2 separate regions of the Homo sapiens genome follow, and region 2 is linked to region 1. Evidence: fine-mapped expression QTL. A gene starts in region 1. The other region holds a variant in brackets. All regions are shown on one strand. Distances are from middle to middle. Region 1 holds the start of LRRC43 (leucine rich repeat containing 43). Region 2 overlaps DIABLO (diablo IAP-binding mitochondrial protein).

The links. PIP is the estimated chance that this variant, and not a neighbour inherited with it, causes the effect.
Region 2: its variant is fine-mapped to the expression of LRRC43 in whole blood (TOPMed, PIP 0.99).

What each region holds. Positions count from the first base shown.
Region 1 is chr12:122,181,865-122,184,880 of GRCh38, forward strand. LRRC43 (leucine rich repeat containing 43) reads left to right here and starts at 1,259. Exons shown (of 12, transcript NM_001098519.2): 1 at 1,259-1,430; 2 at 2,655-2,915. The coding sequence starts at 1,281. RefSeq lists a silencer at 1,287-1,386 and an enhancer at 2,980-3,016.
Region 2 is chr12:122,211,147-122,213,646 of GRCh38, forward strand. All of the region lies in intron 5 of DIABLO (diablo IAP-binding mitochondrial protein), which reads right to left. Among named protein-coding and RNA genes, the nearest start is that of B3GNT4, 8.7 kb to the left of the region's middle. The variant T/A (reference allele first, on the strand shown) is at 1,400.

The sequences.
Region 1 (3,016 bases):
CAAAGTGCTGGGTTTACAGGGGTGAGCCATCGCGCCCAGCCTAATTTTTCTAATAACAGTAAAGTTGTCCCGATATCGTATAGTCAAAAAGAATGAGAGATGTTAATGTGTTCCTCCAAAATTCATTTGTCAGAACCTGATGCCCAGTGTGATAGTATTAAAACGTGGGGCCCTTTGGGAAGTGATTAAGTTTGGGGGCTCCTCAGGAATGGGATCAATGTCCTTATAAAAGAAGCTTCATGGCTGGGCGTGGTGGCTCACGCCTGTAATCCCAACACTTTGGGAGGCTGAGGCCAGTGGATTGCCTGAGCCCAGGAGTTTGAGACCAACCTGGGCAACATGGTGAAACTCCATCTCTACTAAAATACAAAAAATTAGGCTGGGTGCGGTGGCTCACGTATGTAATCCCAGCACTTGGGGAGACCGAGGTGGGTGGATCACCTGAGGTCAGGAGTTCGAGACCAGCCTGGCCAACATGGTGAAACCCCGTCTCTACTAAAAATACACATTAGCGGGGCGTTGTGGCAGGCGGTTGTAATCCCAGCTACTCGGGAGGCTGAGGCAGGAGAATCGGTTGAATCTGGGAGGCGGAGGTTGCAGTGAGCCGAGATCGCGCCATTGCACTCCAGCCTGGACAACAAGAGTGAAACTCGGTCTCAAAAAAAAAAAAAAAAAAAAAAAAGCCGGAAGTGGTCATGCGCGCCTGTAATCCCAGCTACTCGGGAGGCTGAGGCAGGAGAATCGCTTGAACCCGGGACACGGAGATTGCGGTGAGCTGAGATCTCGCCACTGGACTCCAGCCTGGGCGACAGAGCGAGACTCTGTCTCAATAAAATAAAATAAATAAAAAATTTAAAAAATGAGGTCTGGGTGATTAAACAGTTATACAGGTGGACAGTGATAAAATCCCTGACTCCAGGGTTAGAGAGACCACCCTGGAACCCACTGGCTGGTTGGAGTCGAGATGTTTGACCTTGGGCCCTCTTCTCCTTTCTCCATCTGTCAGATGGGTATAGGATGACTTTCCGTGGGGAGTGCTTGACAGGAGCTAAGAAACAGGTCAGCTATGGCGCTTACTGCCTGCGGGAGCTGCCGCACTTAGAACCACCAGCTGTTATCCCATTTTTATAGATGAGGGCAGAAGAGAAAACGCAGGTGGTTGGGGCCAGGCTGTCTGATCCGGATGGGGGACTTTTCCCTCGGGGCAGGTGAGAGCGCCTGGAGAGGCCCCTGCCCCCGCGCACGCGTCCTAGCGGTTGCCGGGCAACGCGGCCCGGGCCATGGAGGCGTCGTACGAGTCCGAGTCCGAGTCCGAGTCTGAGGCCGGGCCTGGGACTCAGCGGCCCGGGACCGGGACCGTGAGCGCGGCCGTGCGCGAGCACTTGCGGAAGCTGTGTCTGCGCGAGTTCCCGTGCGGTGCCGGCAGCTGGGTGCGGGCGCCGGGGCCGGAACTCTGGGGGCCTGGACCGGCTGCGGGGAGGCACGGGCCCGGGCGAGCGGAGCGGGCTGGTCCCTGGGGCCTGGGATCTGCGCATTCTGGGGGCCGCCGACATGGGGGCGGGTGGGGCTTGAGGGTGACGGTGGGGCCCGAGTCGCGGGCACTGCGCGGGGAGGAGAGCGGGGCCCGTCCTGAGCACATCAGCTGACCTGGGCTGGGGCCTCTCCCTGACTTGAAGACGTCAACACCCCAGATTTCTAGTGGGCAGGCTCCTTTTGGGGTGAAAAGCTTTTGTTTTGGGCAAAGAGTTCCACAACTTTTCCCAGCCTCCGAGCATTTAATAAGAGCCTGAGGCAGTGTGAGAGGTGGCTCAGCCTGAAGCCTGCGACCTTGAGTCCAGGAGAAGGGGTTACCCCCCATCCTGCCTCCCTGTCTCCAGAGTCCTAGACCCTTCCCTCCCGTGGCTTCAACCACGAGGGGCGCCCAGGTGTGGCCCAGGAAGGCTTACTGCCCAGGCTGGAGCATAGTGACGCGATGTCGACTTACTGCAACCTCCGCCTCCCAAGTAGCAGGGATTACAGGCACCTGCCACCATGCCCGGCTAATTATTGTATTTTTAGTAGAGACAGGATTTCACCATGTTGCCCAGGCTGGTCTCAAACTCCTGACCTCAAGTGATCCACCTGCCTTTTTAAAAGGAATGGCACCTTTTAATTATTTTGTATCTCACCTCATCTGTAGTTATATCCATGGCTAATAATCCATCAAAATTATTGATTATTCACTGTCTAGATTTTTTTTTTTTTTTTTGAGACGGAGTCTCGCTCTGTCACCCAGCCTGGAGTGCAGTGGCGTGATCTCGGCTCACTGCAACCTCCGCCTCCCGGGTTCAAACGATTCTCCTGCCTTAGCCTCCCGAGTAGCTGAGACTACAGTTGCGTGCCACCACGCCCGGCTAATTTTTTGTATTTTTAGTCGAGACGGGGTTTCACCGTGTTAGCCAGGATGGCCTCGATCTCTTGACCTCATGATCCGCCTGCCTCAGCCTCCCAAAGTGCTGGGATTACAGGCATGAGCCACCGCACCTGGCCTACTCTCTAGATTTCTAAACTCTATCCCTAATCGTCCAGTTTTATGATCTGTTCTGTTTTGAGAGTTTGGTGTCCTTAAGGGGGCTGTGTCACACCTACAGAAAATCCCTCCTCTGCCACTGCAGAATAAGTCGCGCTTTCTTCCTCAAACTTGGCGAACTTGGAGGGAGCTTGTCCCCAGAGAGGAGGATGTGGTGAGCCCCGGAGAGGAGACGGTGGAGGCCCTGCTGGGCCTGGTCCGCAGCCGCCACTCCCCCTGGGCTCTGCTGAACAACTCGAATGCAGAAGACAGTTTCCTGAGAGAATTGGCCATCCGGAACCCGCTGACGATCACAGACACCTTCTTCTACTCCTACTTCCGGTCCCTGCGGGTAATAGACAAGAAGGTCAGTGCTGGGCACGTGGTAGGTGATGTTAGGGTGGCCGCTCCCCTAAGGGAGGTTGTGGGGAGGGCACCCTTCCCCACAGCGCGTCAGGGATCCTGCTT
Region 2 (2,500 bases), 29 kb after region 1:
CCCAGCACTTTGGGAGGCTGAGGCAGGTGGACTGCCTTAGCTCAGGAGTTCGAGACTAGCCTGGGCAACATGGTGAAACCCCATCTCTACCAAAAAATAAAAAAGATTAATCGGGCGTGGTGGTGACTGCCTGTGGTCCCAGCTACTCAGGAGGCTGAGACAGGATTGCTTGACCCTGGGAGGCAGAAGTAACGGTGAGCCAAGATCAAGGAACTGCACTCCAACCCGGGTGACAGAGTGAGACCCTGTCTCCAAAATAAAAAACAATCACACTGAGCTGGGTGCAGTGGCTCAGCTCACGCCTGTGATCCTAGCACTCTGGCAGGCCAAGACGGGAGGATCACTTGAGCCCATGAGTTCAAAATCAGCCTGGGGAACATAACAAGACACCAACTCTTAAAAAAAAAAAAGAAAATTAGTTGGGCTGCTTGGGACGCTGAAATGGGAAGATGGCTTGAGCCCAGGTCAAGGCTGCAGTAAGCTGTGATCATGCCATTACACTCCAGCCTGGGCAACAGAGCAAGACCCTGTCTCCAAAACAAATTCTGTTCTAATCCTTAATAGCTTTAATAGCTTTAATTTTTTTGGTTGTCTTGACCTGCAAGCGTGCTCAGAAAATTGAGTATTACACACATCTCAGATCTCCTTGTAATTCTATCAGTTTTTGCCTCATTAAGTACATTTCATGATTGATAATGTCTTAATGAATTGTTCTGTCCTACTGATTACTTTTTATCTTGAATTCTTTGATTTAGCTAGTTTTAGCTAAATTTTGGAACACAATCTAAACGTGTCATTTAATAAGTTTATTTTTACTGCAATCACTGATGTTTGAAATTATTCCTATAATTTTTTTTTTTTTTTTTTAAATTACAGATGGAGTTTTGCCATGTTGGCCAGGCTGGTCTCGAACTCTTGACCTCAGCTGATCCATCTGACTTGGCCTTCCAAAGTGCTGGGATCATAGGTGTGAACTACTGCACGTGGCCCAATTTTGTATTTTCTAATTGACGGGTTTTCTTTTTAAACCTTTCCTGCCTCAACTGGAGCTACCAAGTTTCCTCCCACTCCTACTAATTCTCTTTGCAGTGTTTAACAATGTCTAATGTCAATGTGCTTAGCATGTTTTCACTTTCCCAAATTTAAAAACTTGTTTTACACTCAGAACTTTTGAAAAAAAATCTTAGTAGCTTCTCTCAAAACTGATTTTTCCTTCTTCATAGTTCTTCCAGAAAGTGTATACAGGTGGTACTTTGAGTCTATGTCTGAGGATATCTTTTATTCTCACTTTTTGATGGTAGTTGGCTATACATAAAATCCTAGGTTATGGATTTATCGTCACCTCTAGTGTTGCGGAGAAGATGCCTGATGTTTGATTCTACTTCCTTTGTAGGTAATC[T/A]ATTTTTTCTTAGTAGCTTTTGGGATTTTGCTCTGAATCTTTTTGTTATGCTGTTACTTTATTGTTCGCTTATTTATTTATTTTTGTTTTTTTTTTTGAGATGGAGTCTTGCTCTGTTGCCCAGGGTGGAGTGCAGTGGTGTGATCTCTGCTCACTGCAAGCTCTGCCTCCCAGGTTCACGCCATTCTCCTGCCTCAGCCTCCCGAGTAGCTGGGACTACAGGCACCCGCCACCACACATAGCTAATTTTTTTGTATTTTTAGTAGAGACGGGGTTTTACCATGTTAACCAGGATGGTCTTTATCTCCTGACCACATGATCCGCCCACCTCAGCCTCCTAAAGTGCTGGGATTACAGGCGTGAGCCACTGCGCCCGGCCATTTTTTTGTTTTTAAGACAGGGTCTTGCTTTGTCAACCAGGCTGGGGTACACTGGCCTGATCATGGCTCACTGCAGCCTCGACCTCCAGGGCCCAAGTGATCCTCTCACCTCAGCCTCCCAAGAAGCTGGGACTACAGGCGCCCATCACCATGCCTGGCTAATTTTTTTGTAGAGACAGGGTTTCATCGTGTTGTCAAGTCTGGTCTCGAACTCCTGAGCTCAAGTGATCCACCTGCTTAGGCATCCCGAAGTGCTGGGATTACAACAGGTATGAGCCACTGCACCTGGACCAGATTTTTGGTTAAAAAAGTGAAATCATAAGGCCGTGCACAGTGTCTCATGTCTGTAATCCCAGCAGTTTGAGAGGCCAAGGCGGGTGGATCACTTGAGCTCAGGAGTTCAAGACCAGCCTGGACAACATGGCAAAATCCTGTCTCTACCGGAAACATATAATCCCAGCTACCTGGGAGACTGACATGGTAGGATCGCTTGAGCCCAGAGGCTAAGGCTGTAGTAAGCAGTGAGCCATGATTGTGCCACTGTACTCCAGCCTGGTAACAGAGTAAGACCTTGTCTCAGGGAAAAAAAAAAAAAAAATTCCGTTTACAACTTTGTTAGCCCTTTCTATGAGTTCTAGGAAAATGTCTACTTTTCTCAAATAATGCTTATACATCCCCTCCTTTTCTCCTTCTAGATATTCTCCTTTTCTCCTTCTAGATA